Homo sapiens: one gene and its partners. Changing the gene in region 1 together with any one later gene gives a genetic interaction. Each region holds a gene or a part of one and is shown in the gene's direction. Other genes may lie near its edges.

What was found. Genes that interact genetically often act in the same process or in processes that back each other up.
Region 2: changes in NUBP1 (region 1) and COPA together harm fitness less than expected from each alone (positive genetic interaction), as found in Homo sapiens cells (one large-scale study listed by BioGRID).
Region 3: changes in NUBP1 (region 1) and NAA50 together harm fitness more than expected from each alone (negative genetic interaction), as found in Homo sapiens cells (one large-scale study listed by BioGRID).
Region 4: changes in NUBP1 (region 1) and LTO1 together harm fitness more than expected from each alone (negative genetic interaction), as found in Homo sapiens cells (one large-scale study listed by BioGRID).

Annotation. Positions count from the first base shown.
Region 1 is NC_000016.10:10,757,342-10,760,841, forward strand, and holds part of NUBP1 (cytosolic Fe-S cluster assembly factor NUBP1), read left to right. Parts: exon of another isoform or gene 1-531; coding exon 532-686; exon of another isoform or gene 687-936; intron 937-3,500. UniProt on the Homo sapiens protein: Component of the cytosolic iron-sulfur (Fe/S) protein assembly (CIA) machinery. Required for maturation of extramitochondrial Fe-S proteins.
Region 2 is NC_000001.11:160,288,094-160,291,250, reverse strand, and holds the end of COPA (coatomer subunit alpha), read left to right. Parts: intron 1-564; coding exon 565-759; intron 760-1,034; coding exon 1,035-1,094; 3' UTR 1,095-2,657; downstream 2,658-3,157. UniProt on the Homo sapiens protein: The coatomer is a cytosolic protein complex that binds to dilysine motifs and reversibly associates with Golgi non-clathrin-coated vesicles, which further mediate biosynthetic protein transport from the ER, via the Golgi up to the trans Golgi network.
Region 3 is NC_000003.12:113,736,250-113,739,749, reverse strand, and holds part of NAA50 (N-alpha-acetyltransferase 50), read left to right. Parts: intron 1-3,500. UniProt on the Homo sapiens protein: N-alpha-acetyltransferase that acetylates the N-terminus of proteins that retain their initiating methionine. Has a broad substrate specificity: able to acetylate the initiator methionine of most peptides, except for those with a proline in second position.
Region 4 is NC_000011.10:69,665,354-69,668,853, reverse strand, and holds the end of LTO1 (protein LTO1 homolog), read left to right. Parts: intron 1-841; coding exon 842-959; intron 960-1,266; coding exon 1,267-1,335; 3' UTR 1,336-3,291; downstream 3,292-3,500. UniProt on the Homo sapiens protein: The complex LTO1:YAE1 functions as a target specific adapter that probably recruits apo-ABCE1 to the cytosolic iron-sulfur protein assembly (CIA) complex machinery. May be required for biogenesis of the large ribosomal subunit and initiation of translation.

The DNA of each region.
Region 1 (3,500 bases):
GGCTTATTTGGGTCAGAGAGGTGAGATCAACAGGAGGTTGATCTGGTACTGAGACTTAAGGTAATAATGTGAAAGTGTTATCAGGGCAAGCTTTAGCCTCAGCACTATTGATATTTTGAGCCAGATAAGTCTTTGTTGGGGGGAGGAGTAGACCGTGTTCTACACCATAGGGTGTTAAACAGTGTCCCTGGCCTTTACCCACAAGATGCCAGTAGCACCCCCTACTCTATTTGTGACAACCCAAAATGTCTCCAGACATTGCAATTCACTCCCAGTTGAGAGCCACTGACTTACAGCATAGACCAAAGGCACAAAAAGATCAGATCATGCTTCTCCGTGAGCTGGGCACAGTGGCACGCACTTATAGTCCTAGTTACTTGGGAGGCTGAGGTGGGAGGATTGCTTGAGCCTCAGAGTTAAGAGCCAACCTGGGCAACATAGCAAGACCCCATCCTTTAAAAAAAAAAGAGGGAGTTGAAAGTACAGAAAAGAAAGGAAAAGTAAGCATCCCCTGTGGATTCCTCTTTCTAGGCATGATCAAGCAGTTCCTCCGAGATGTGGACTGGGGAGAGGTCGACTACCTCATTGTGGACACCCCACCTGGGACGTCGGATGAACACCTCTCGGTCGTCCGGTACCTGGCCACAGCACACATCGATGGAGCAGTGATCATCACCACTCCCCAGGTGAGCGAGCTGCCAGCTGGAGCTGGGTCCAAACTGTGCTCCACACTGTGAGATTTCTTTCCTACCTGGCTCTGATACTCTGGTCTCACCAAGGCTCTTCCCAGTGTGTGTTCCGCAGCTGCATCTGATGTGGGTCTGCAGAAACCTCGTGTTAAAAACTTCAGCCAGCACAGTGATTCACACCTGTAATCCCAGGACTTTGGGAGGCTGAGATGGGAGGATCACTTGAGCCCACGAGTTCGGGACCAGCCTGAAAAACATAGCAAAACCCCATCTCTACAAAAAATATTTTAAAATTAGCCAGGCATGGTGGCTCGCGCCTGTAGTTCCAGCTACTTGGGAGGCTGAGGTAGGAGGATCATTTGAGCCTGGGGAAAGGAGGTTGCAGTGAGCCATGATCACGCCAGTGCAGTCCAGCCAGCGCAAGCGAGTGAGGCCTTGTCCCAAAAGATAAAAATAAGAAAAACTTCATCTTTGGTCTAGACATTTGCAGCTGACAACCATTCAACGATTTGGTTTTTTTTTAGTCCATGGATTAAACAATAGTGGGTCAAGAATGCTTTTTGAACTTTCCTTGAGGAAACTAGGGAAACCACCAGTGCAGTTATAATTCATACTGTGCTGCCTGGCCCCGTCAGCCTTGCCGTGTCCATGTGTCAGGTCCCCCAGCCTACAGTGGATTTTCCGTTTACATCCCAGGATGATTTAGGAAATCTCTCCAGTTTTCAACAGAACCAGCTGGGTGCAGATAGGGATTTCGGGATAAGCCACTGGGTGCCTTCGCTTCTTCCGTAGTGACACCCAGCAACCCTCTGTAGCAGTCACCTAGTGGCTGTACTCCAAGGCCCATGGTGAGCCCGAGCTGAGAGGAGAGCGATAGGAAGTTTCCTCTCTGTAAGTCCTGCAGAGAGCAACTGCAGGCAGGACCATGGTGCTATCCATCTCAGGGGCCTGAGAAACTGAGGGCTCTTCTCCATCTCCACAGTTACGCCTGACTTCTCTTCATGACGTTCTCCTCCACACTTAAGAAAGCCCAGCAAAGGAGGTTTGATTTGATCTCACTGGCCAGAATCAGTCAGGACGACCCATAGTCTCACCTCATCCAGCACTCACTGAGCTCTGACTCTGACATGCCGGGCACCAGGGCAGTAAAAAGGCCTGGCTCTCCCTGGTGGCCCCTGTGGCTCCCTGAGGAACACAGGTGCTGGACACAGGGATGAGGGTACAGCCAATGGAGTGGCAGGCCCAGCGGCCATGGGAAGGGTGTCCGGGTCAGAAAATGGTGCAAGATTCATGTCCACCCTGGCATCCTGCAGAGAGGGGACATGGGGACGCAAGGAGGAGCAGGACACCAGCTGGGACCCTGGACAGGAGGGAGGATGGCCTGGCCCGGGTGATGGCAGTGGAGAGAAAGTGTATTTGTCCTTAGGAATGTTTTCTGTCCCATTTTTAAAAAGTGGTTGGTGCTGGGCACACTGGCTCATGTCTGTAATCCCAGCACTTTGGGAGGCCGAGGCAGGCAGATTACTTGAGGTCAGGAGTTCGAGACCAGACTGGCCAATATGGCAAAACCCTGTCTCTACCAAAAAAATACAAAAATTAGCCAGGCGTGGTGGTGGGCACCTGTAATCCCAGCTACTTGGGAGGCTGAGGTGGGAGAAGTGCTTGAATCCAGGAGACAGAGGTTGCAGTGAGCCGAGATCGCGCCACTGCACTCCAGCCTGGGCGACAGAGCAAGACTCTGTCTCAAAAAAAGAAAGAAAGAAATGAGAGACTGAGTCGCAGCCCATTGACTTTCTAGCTGAGCGCCCCTTCCTCCGCATCCCAGCCTCAGTGTCAAGAGCCAAACAGGCATCTCAGGAAAAGAACAGGCCCAAAGCTGCGAGCCTTTCGGGCTCACGTGAGTGGTGAAGCTCCAGGTGCTAAGGAGTCACTACACCTGACAGTGACAAGCCACAGCAGGACTTGGGTACAGGGATCTGTGATAACATTAACTGAGGAAAATAGGGAGCTACTGAGCGGTGTTTATACACAGTAATCACATTGGAAAAACTCAGAGTTGAGAAGGAAATGCAAAGTTGTCCACATTGGGCAGTATTCCTTATTTCCTTTTAGTCAGTTGTTTGTGTTTATAATTATCTAGAGCAGGGATTGGCAAACTTTTCTGTAAAGGGCCAGATAGGAAGTAGGCGTTGCGGACCCCACGGTCCCTGTCCCAGCCCCTTAGCCGTGCCACTGTGGCATGAAGCAGCCACAGACGGTGCCTAGAGGGACGGGCATGGCTGGTTCCGGAGGAACTTTATTTATAAAACCAGCCAGATTCAGCCCCCAGGCTGGGGTTTGCCAAGCTCTGGTCTAGAAAACAGTGCACACACTGGCTTAATATAGTATAGTATAGGGACATGGAGCATGTAGATGCGTTAAAAGGTCATTTTCAGATAGGCACAGTGGCTCACGCCTCTAACCCTAACACTCTGGGAGGCCGAGGCAGGAGGATCACTTCACACCAGAAGCTTAAGACCAGTCTGGGCAACAACCATCTCTATAAAAAATTAAAAAGTTAGCCAGGCAGAGTAGCACATGCCTGTAGTCCCAGCTACTCTGGAGGCTGAGGCAGGAGGATTGCCTGAGCCCAGGAGGTCAAGGCTGCAGTGAGCAATGATTATGCCACTGCACTCCAGACTGGGCAGCAGTGAGATCCTGTCTCTAAAAAAAAAAGTCATTTTCTTTTAGGTTGATTTCTTGCTATTTGGCTGTGTGGGAAGTAAATAGCACCTCGAACAAACAGGGCTTAGCACTAGTAGGTACTAAATA
Region 2 (3,157 bases), on another chromosome or scaffold:
CAAAGCAATAAATAACAACATTCAACAAAAAGCCAACAGAATGCTACCCTCTGTTTACTTCCTGACTTGGTGTTTCCTTTGTTCCTGGAAAATTAATAGTTTATTGAGACATGGCACTCGTCTAAGAGTGCCGTGCAACCTAGAATAGCTCCACTGCAGCTGAAAGTAACCCCAGTCCTGTCCTTAAGCTCCAGATATCCCATCACAACCACCACAAAGCTTCACATACACATCTCATTACTTGTGTCCTCCAAATGCATTCTTTTTGGGTGATGGAAGTCTGTTTTAACCCTTTCTAGGACCTGACCCTGATAATCTCTAGAGTTGGTGGAGGAATGTGGGTCTAGATTATGGAGCCACTTTTGTATTGAGAAGGGGAAAGTTTGATACAATAGGAATGGTGATTGTTAACCCTTCACATACATCCAGTACAGAGGTTGGGACCTCTTTTCACGCAGTACAGTTGTGTCTCACATCAACGGAACTACCAAACCATGGTGTTGGGATCCTTTGAGGTGTTGTCTGCAGCCTTCTGTCCTCCTAAATACTCCTTCCTTCCCCTAGACCCGAAAAATCCTGTCTGCCTGTGAGAAGAATCCCACAGATGCCTACCAGCTCAATTATGACATGCACAACCCCTTTGACATTTGTGCTGCATCATATCGGCCCATCTACCGTGGAAAGCCAGTAGAAAAGTGTCCACTCAGTGGGGCCTGCTATTCCCCTGAGTTCAAAGGTCAAATCTGCAGGGTCACCACAGTAAGTACTGTCCTCAATAAATATATCTAGGATATTGAGCGAAGGGGAAAAAGAAAGAAACATGGTGGTCCTTTTTTTCTTCTTGTGCTTGTCCCCTGCTCCCTGAGGCAGTGACACTGGAGAAAGCTAGAGCATCTCCCCACTGCTCTTGGCCAGTCAGTGATGAACACCCCAATACCTGTCTACTGTGCCCATTGAGGGGTATAGGGAATACATTTTCTAGGGTTCTCAATCTTACAAATCTCTAACTTGTTCCTTTGTTTGTTTTTCCACAGGTGACAGAGATTGGCAAAGATGTGATTGGTTTAAGGATCAGTCCTCTGCAGTTTCGCTAAGGCCCCCTTTGTGTGCATGGGTCAGTCACCATATGTTCCCCCCAGAGAATGTGTCTATATCCTCCTTCTAACAGCACCTTCCCCCTGCAGCTACTCTTCAGATCTGGCTCTCTGTACCCTAAAACCTAGTATCTTTTTCTCTTCTATGGAAAATCCGAAGGTCTAAACTTGACTTTTTTGAGGTCTTCTCAACTTGACTACAGTTGTGCTCATAATTGTCCTTGCCTTTCCAGCTTAATTATTTTAAGGAACAAATGAAAACTCTGGGCTGGGTGGAGTGGCTCATACCTGTAATCCCAGCACTTTGGGAGGCTACGGTGGGCAGATCATCTGAGGCCAGGAGTTCGAGACCTGCCTGGCCAACATGGCAACACCCCGTCTCTAATAAAAATATAAAAATTAGCCTGGCATGGTAGCATGCGCCTATAGTCCCAGCTGCTCAGGAGGCTGAGGCATGAGAATCGCTTGAACCTAGGAGGTGGAGGTTGCATTCAACTGAGATCATACCACTTCATTCCAGCCTGGGTGACAGAGCAAGACTCTGTCTCAAAAAAAAAAAAAAGGAAAACTCTGTGATGGACATTTGTTTAGTAAATCCCTTCAGTATTTATCCCTCCTTTCCCCACAGCAGCTTTCTTTCCTGTCAACTAGAAAGGAGCAGGATGTAATAAATACATTTTGGTGTGACTAGGCCACACCAACTCTTAATCATCTCCCATTTTCCTTAGACATTTAAATTTCAAGGCAGGTACCCTCTGTGTACTCAGAAATTTGAAGAAGTTATTTGGTTTTCCAAAATGCACACTGCGGGTTATTGATTTGTTCTTTACAACTATTGTTCTCATATTTCTCACACTAAATAAATCTCTATGAGAGCTTCTTGACTTGGCCATTTATTTCTTGGACACTCTCATGTTCTTGTTCACCCATGCAGGCACCCCACCAAAGTACATATCTTCCTTCCAGTAATAATTTTTAATTACAAAATAAACATCCACTATTGGAAAAAAAAAAAAAAAGCTAGCCGGGCATGGTGGTGGGTGCCTGTAATCCCAGCTACTCTGGAGGCTGAGGCAGAGGATTGCTTGAACCCGGGAGGCGGAGGTTGCAGTAAGCTGAGATCGCGCCACCGCACTCCAGCCTGGGCGACAGAGTGAGACTCCATCTCAAAAAAAAAGAAAGAAAAAAAGAAGCACATGTTTTTCATAGGGTATATATGAGGACCTAAACTGCTGTGAAAATGATAGAAAGCAAGTAGCTCCCTTATTCTGTTTTTGATTGCAGCCTTTTATCTTTTGCTAATTATAGCAATATTTATTGAGCACCTGCCATGTGACTGTCACTGTTCTAGATATTTTACATGTAATATACAGATAAAAGAATAGTACTTTATATATATTACAATGATACAATGATTACATTAACAATACAATATTTTGCTTGTCATATGCTAAGAATAATTGGGTAGAGTGACATTACTGTGCCTTCGATTAAAATAAGTACTTTTTTGCGTGTTAAATTCATGTTTTCAATAAATAATAAATGCATATAGTTGAAAAATCAGTAAATATAAAAAGCTATTCTGTGACAAATCTTTCCACCCTTTCATCAGCCACCCAGTTCCTATCACCTTCCCCTAAACAGGTAACCACTGTTACCAGCTTTCTTACATCCTTCCAGAAATTTTATATATATATATATATACACACACACACATATACATGCACATGCTGATATCACTATGCCATTCTCTATCTCCTTTTATACACAAATGAAACCACACTATTTAACAATTTTGTACCTTTGTTTTTTCATTTAACATTTTTGGTATTTTCTCGTATCAATATATTAGGGAGCTTCACTTTGTTTTTTACTTCTCTTCATACTATACGTTGTATTTTTTAGCTTTATCTTAAGAGTTGCTTTTTTAAACAGCATCCCTAAACTAAGGCTGCCTTCTCAACAGAGTACATACTACTAATGAGATTGTGCCATTGCACTCCACCCTGGGGTACAAGAGCGAGACTTCGTCTCAAAAAAAAAAAAAATGTACATATTAGCCG
Region 3 (3,500 bases), on another chromosome or scaffold:
GGGCCAACAGAAAGTTTATGGCTGTTTATACCTCTGTGTTGAAGGATTTTGAGGCGAATCTGGTTTTTTGGTTAAAGTGTTGCCATTCAGTCACTTGGTCTGCTGTGAAAGGGTAGGGAAGAGATAATTGGAAGTATTCATCTTTCTTGAGCTAGTGCAAGCTATATTCTGCCTCTGTCAGAAACTTGTTCTCCAACTCCAGAGGCTTCTTACCTCAGTCCCCTATAGTGCTGTAGTGAATGCTTGTTCATAAAACTACCTGACACACATCCTTAATTACTTCTTTTGGATAATTTCCTAAGAATGAATTTTCTGGATCAAAAGGTACTGACATTTTTAAAGCTCTGGTGTTTCTTGCCAGTTGACCTCCAAAAAGATAGTAGCAATTTATTCTGTCAGCAATGTATGAGAATGTCCTTCTCTTTCCAAGGGCTAACGAAAGGGAAGGGCACGTGGAAAAACCTCAGGAAAACATATTGTGGCTGACATTTCAGCCATGAATGGTATAAATTTTCTTTGCGATGCGTTCAATACATTTAAATACATTAAAATGATAGAAATAACTAATAGCTTCCTTACAAGTTGTCTTTGAGTAAATATTCACATTTTGCTTTAACTCTACTTTTACTTTGCTGATTAGGTGATAAACGGCATTTCCTTTTTTAAAGATTTGATGATTATTTAGTGAAGTTTGGACATATACCATTTTTACTGGTCATTTTGTGACGTAAGTTGTTTATAACTTACCCAGTTATTAATTGGGATGATGATTGCCTTAACTTCAAATTGTAAAACAAAGATGATATTCTTTAGAGAGTAGGGGTGAGACATTAGGGCCCAGGTCATTTGAAATAAAAATTTTTAGAGGTGAAACTTGGTAAACAAGGATAAGCAAGGAAAATATTTTGTACTTAGGAGCACTTCAAACACTTCTTTTTCCAGAAAATTAGGGTATATTTAAAGGTATGTTTGGGTTCCCCTGCTTCTAGTGTATATAATTTGTTACTTATTTTAAAGGAAACTTACTATAATGCAAAAAGCATTGAACTAAAAGCAACCAAGTTTTAGTTTTATGTACCACAAATGATAGCTAGCAGTAGGGTCACTAATAAAGGTGTTTCAACCTCTGGGCCTTGGTTGTCTTTTAAGGGAATGGCTTGAATCTGAATAGGAATGGCCAAAGATTCTAGCTTGTGTGCCAGTTCTATTTTGTAGGTATCTGGGGAAGCAGAATTAACAGAGATTAAAATAGGACATAAAGAATACATAGAAAACTAAATTTCTCTATTGGATGAACGGTGGGCTCTTCATAGATTGTAGAGGTAGTTCTAATTTCTTATGGAAAGTGATGCTGTCTCTTTTGGATGTGTTGAATTTGAGATTCTTGTAGAGATCACCAGTAACCAGTCAGAAATATTGGCTTGGATTCAGAGATTTGGAAATAAAAACATTAACATTTAGATGGCAGTGAAAGAAAAGCCATAAGCTGGCAAGGAGCTTTCTTAACTGAATATGTGGATGACAGTGGAAACAATTTTCCACAGAATAATTTGATTCTTTTTAGGTTATATTCTTGAGCAGATTGTGCCCATGTGTGTATTTAGCATTAGTAACCGACCATATAATTGCTGAGATTTTTATACCTCTGATACTTGCAGGCATACAGTTTGGAGAGCTGATCCACCCCACCTTCGCTTTTTTCAAAGAAATAGAGTCAGGGTTTTGCCATGTTGCCCAGGCTGGTCTCGAACTCCTGGACTCAAAGGATCTGCCCACTTTGGCTTCCCAAAATGCTGGGATTACAGGCCTGAGCTACCATGCCCAGCCCCTTTTACTTTTAAAATTACTGCCAAACCTCTAGATCAGTAACTGCCAACTAGGGCAACCCCCCACCCCCTCTTCCCAATTATTGGTAATGTCTGAAGACACTTTTGGTTGTCCTAACAGGATGTAGGAGAGTTCTGGCACCCAGTGGGTAAAATCTAGGGATGCTGCTGAGTATTCTGCAGTGTACCAGAAAGGCCCTTTACAACAAAGAATAATGTAGCCCCAAATGCTAATGTTGAGATTGAGAAACCCTGCTGTAAAATCTAGGTAAGATGGAACTTACTAAAAGTAATTTAGTAATTCCCTGAAATAATCTGAGATCCTGCCCTAAGTCTTATAGTTTTATAGAAGAGGTAAGATACAAGAATAAATGTTTGTAGCAGGGCAGAGGTGCCTTGTAAGGACAGAAACGGTAATATAGTTCATATGAGGTAGAAATCTCAGTGGGTGACAGGTTAAGACCTCATGAGCAGTTAGTGTTGAAACTGTGTGATAAATTCTGAATGGGCTTACTTTCAGGTTGAAGGAATTTATTTTCCAGAGGAATCACTCTTTCATGTAATTTACTACAGGGTAAGAGTTTAGAAACATTACTGCTAGCAAAGAAAAAATTACCTCCCTTCTAACCCCTTGACATTTTTAAATCAAAGGACCATTTGATCCTAACTAAAAGATGCTTTGAGTTTTATGCAAATGCACCTTTATCAGTATACGTCAGAAAAATGTTTACCAATAGATCTCTCTCCCTTTTTTTAAAAAGTGACCTTGAGGGGTAAAGGTCATTCCTTTGACAGAAATTGTTGTGACTGATCTTGTGCTACAATGGAAATTAAGAGACATAGGCTTGATTCTGGCTTTATCCATAACTGTCTGTATAACTATAGGTACATTTGTCTCTTGGGGGTTTAGTTTCATCATCTGTAAAATGAAGGGGGAGTAGATCCAGTCCAGATCAAATACTCTGCACAACAAATGAACAGGCAGTTAAAATTATGTGCCAAGGTACTCTTAATACTCACTAAAAGTATAAACAGGCTTTAAGCTTTCTCTATACTTCATTTTCACTTTTTGTTATATAACTTAAAAAGTCACACTTTGAGCCTGGTGTGGTGATGTGGTGCCTGTTGTCCCAATAGCTCAGGAGGCTGAGGCTGGAAGATCACTTAAGCCCAGCAGTTCAAGGCCCCTGGGCAATATAGTGAAACCATCCTTCTTAAAAAAACCACTTTTTACCGAGACCCACTTTTGTGGAGTCATATCCCCATCTTGTGGCCTTTCAGAATATTGCTACTAAATGTTTTTACAATTATGAGCATAATTGGCAATGGGTTGAATAGCTAAAAACATTTGCGTCCATAATATCTGACATCGCTGTGCCAAAATTTAATGTGCATTAACTCATCACACTGCTTGATTTATAGGCCAAGGGTAAAGTTTTCTTACTAGCATAGTCTAACCCAGAAGTTATGTACGTGAAATTATAATCTTGTGGCACAAATTAATAGCCGATGGGAGTCTATAAAGAGGCAGATAAGTAACTGCATTTTTCACATTTAAGGACTTAATATAAAGTATCTGTAGGCACTTTGGCAGTAGCGGTTTCTTATTTACATCACAGTCTGTCCCACTTTTCCTTAGTCTAAAAATTCTGGTATGAAAATGCCTTGGGGTTT
Region 4 (3,500 bases), on another chromosome or scaffold:
GTTTCACCATATTGGTCAGGCTGGTCTCGAACTCCTGACCTCAGGTGATCCACCCTCCTCGGCCTCCCAAAGTGCTGGGATTACAGGCGTGAGCCACCGAGCCCGGCCCATGTCAGTTATTTAATCCTCTTGAAAGTCTGTGAGGTTGCTGTTACTCTCCCCATTAAAAAAAAAAAAACAAAACAGAAATTAATTTCTCACCATCTGGAGGCTGGGATGCCCCCCATTTTACAGATGAGGCCAGCAGGGTTGAAAGCAGGTAGAGAGGTGTTGGGGAGATGTCATGCCCAGGGCTGCTGTCTCCTGAGTGCACAGCCTTTCTGCAGAACCTCCTTGCCTCCCCAGCAAAGCTGTTTCCTCCCTGGGGAGGGGACAGTACTGATTTCCGCCTTTGGAGGGAGGGGTTTGCTGGTTTACCTGCAGCTGAACTTTGGAAGGCTTTGAGCACAAAGAATCCAGATCCTGGAAAATCCCCAGACCCAGAGCAGGCCTGCTCGTGCCCAGCCCCAGTCCCTCTTGCCCAGTTCTGTCTGTTTCTGCATGTGTGACCTCGAGAGTCAGCAGGGCTTCTGGCTGCCTCAGCCCCTTGGCCCCGTGGTCGGAATGGAGGCGTGTCTGTAAGCTAGGCACACACTTGCTGTCGAGGCACTGGGTATGGGCCTAAGCTCGTTGCTAGGTAAATAAATATGATTTCGTGTAATGAGAAAATAATCATCCAGCTTTTGAACGAAGGCATTCTTAGCGCACCTGCTGGGTTTCAGGAAGCCAGCAGCATAGCTGTTGTGTAAGTTGAGCCTGTTGTGTGCACATGACTGAGAGTCTGTATTTCTGTGCTTTACAGCAGAAAGATGAAGGTCTTAGAATCATTGATTGGAATGATCCAGAAATTCCCTTATGATGACCCTACTTACGATAAACTCCATGAAGACTTAGACAAGATCAGAGGAAAATTTAAACAGGTGCGTGCACTGTGTGTTTCCTCCTGCTAGGAGCACCTGATTGCGCCTTTCCCAGGCGGGGCAGCGCACTCCCGGGGCCGCTGCGGCAATGGCCTGGGGCTGCGTGCGCCGCGGAACTGTCCGTAGAGGCGCCTCATCCTTGAGTCGCAGTGCAGGAAAACTGAAGACAGTCCAGAGAAAAGGAGTTAGAACTCATTTATGGGCTGGCCACATAGACAGGAAAAGCTATAGCTAGAGATAGAGTTATCTTCTCATTTTTCAGTAAAAATGCACAAGATTAAAAATACCATCTCTTTTGTGTTTTCAGTTTTGTTCGTTACTCAATGTTCAGCCAGACTTTAAAATTAGTGCAGAAGGTTCCGGACTTTCATTTTGAGGAGGATGGATGAACAGAGACCGAACGTCGAGGAACAGATGTGTGTGTGACGTGTTTAGAAATGCGGTGAAGGGCCAGACGGTGCTGGGAAGGCAGTTGTTCATTGGGAGGGTGAGGGTTCCGGTTCGGCCGTGGGAGGGCTTCCTTCCCTGGGGTTTTCTGCCTGTGTCACCTTGGTGCCCGTCTTGGGGCCTCGCCACACATGCCCTTTGTTGGGCTGAAGCCGTCCCTGGCAGAGCCCTCGTGCATTGACTTGACAGCCTCTCCGGCAGCACAGGCCTAGCTGGTTCTGGGTTGGAGTTGGCTCTGGATAGGGTCAGTCACCAGGCCTGGACTGAAGGCAGTTATTTTTATTATTATTATTATTTGCAATGAGAGAGATGGTTGGCCCCGAATGAGGCTCATGGGAGGTTTGGACGGGTGCTGTGCCGCATGTCGAGGCCGATTGTGTGCCAGGCGGTGCGGGACGTGCCTCCCGTGTGTTATTTAATCCCTTCAGGAGCCCACAAGATGGGTGTTATTCTCATTTTACAGAGGAGGGAGGGGAGACGCGAAGGGATTGCCTGGTCTAAGGGCACCCAGCAGCAGAGCTAGGACTTCCGCCCTAAGGCTGTGCCTCACTGCCACCAGGCACAGCCGCCTCCGGAATGCACAGGCGAGTCCCTGCCCTCCCTCCCAGGCCGCACAGGTCCTGCCAAGCCTCACGGAGCACGGGGGAGTCTGTGGTGGCCAGTTTACCTGGGCATCTGGCTGAGAGGAAGAAAGGCCAACCTGATCCTGAGGGGACCCAGACATATCCTTTGCACTGTCCCTAGAGGGGCGATGAGCTTTGCAGCATTAAAAAATGGTGAAGGGGGGAAATATTTTGAACCAAAGACCAAATGTTAGGCCGCCGTTATATTTGCAGAAGCTTTGAGAACCATGCGTATAGCCTCCTGCATTCTCCCCTCTCCTAGGAGCTCTTTTGTCTCTGTCCTTACGAGGCGTCATACAGAGGCAGTGGGGTGGGCACAGATGAGCAGAGTGGATGGTTCGGTGGGTCCCCACGAGGCGAGTGGTGGTCATATGTGATGGCACGTGTTCACACACCCTCCTGTGTACCCCCCCAGGGTCACCGAAGTCCCCACACGCTGGCTCTCCACACCCCTCCTGTTCCAGAAAGCATGTCCGAAAGCAGTCCAGGAGATTATTAAGGGGTCGCCATGAATCCACTTTGGTTTTAAAACCATTCCCGAATGTCCTAGTGGATTGTGTTGTGCTGCCTAAGCTGCCGGCTGCAGGAGCCAGAGAAGTGACCCCCGCGGGAGCAGCGGCAGGTGGATCTCCACGGTGGCTCGCTTTGTTTTTGTTTTGTTTTTTCTTTTAAGACGGAGTCTCACTCTGTCGCCGAGTTTGGAGTGTATTGGCGCGATCTCGGCTCACTGTAACCTCCGCCTCCTGAATTCAAGTGATTCTCCTGCCTCAGCCTCCCTAGTAGCTGGGATTATAGGCGCCCCCCACCACGCCCAAGTAACTTTTGTATTTTTAGTAGAGATGGGGTTTTGCCTTGTTGGCCAGGCTGGTCTTGAACTCCCAGCCTGAAATGATCCACCCACGTCCACCTACCAAAGTGCTGGAATTGCAGGCATGAGCCACCACTCCCGGCCTGCTTTTTGTTTTTGAAGACAGGACTTAGGTCTCCTCCTCCCGAACTCTAAACCTGCGTGTGTGGCTGTGCACCGCTCGTTTGTAGCGTCACCTCAGGTCTGGGGAAGTCTGTGCTGGCATCTCCTCATTGTGCCTTCATCAGAGCTGGTGCCTTCGGGCCAGAAAGACTCTCGTTCTTTCTAGATGGTGGGATCAGGGGCCTTTGCTGTGTTTCCCTTGGTGGATTTTTGTGTTTTGTAAGTTGTCTATTTTGATAATGTATTATTTTTATAACTGTAAAAAAAGTAAATAGCATATTTTAAAGTGAAAGTTTGGGACCATTTATAACACAACGTCATTTATAACACGGCATCATTTATAACACAACATCCAGCCAGTTTATTTCTTCCTCCAGGGCATTTAGGATCTGGATATGAAGGAAGACATGGGCCTTAGATTTCTGCCAGCTTGTCTCCTTAACCTAGCGTAGACACAGCCACTGCGAGAGTGCTCCCATTGTGTTGGGGACTGGTCAGCTC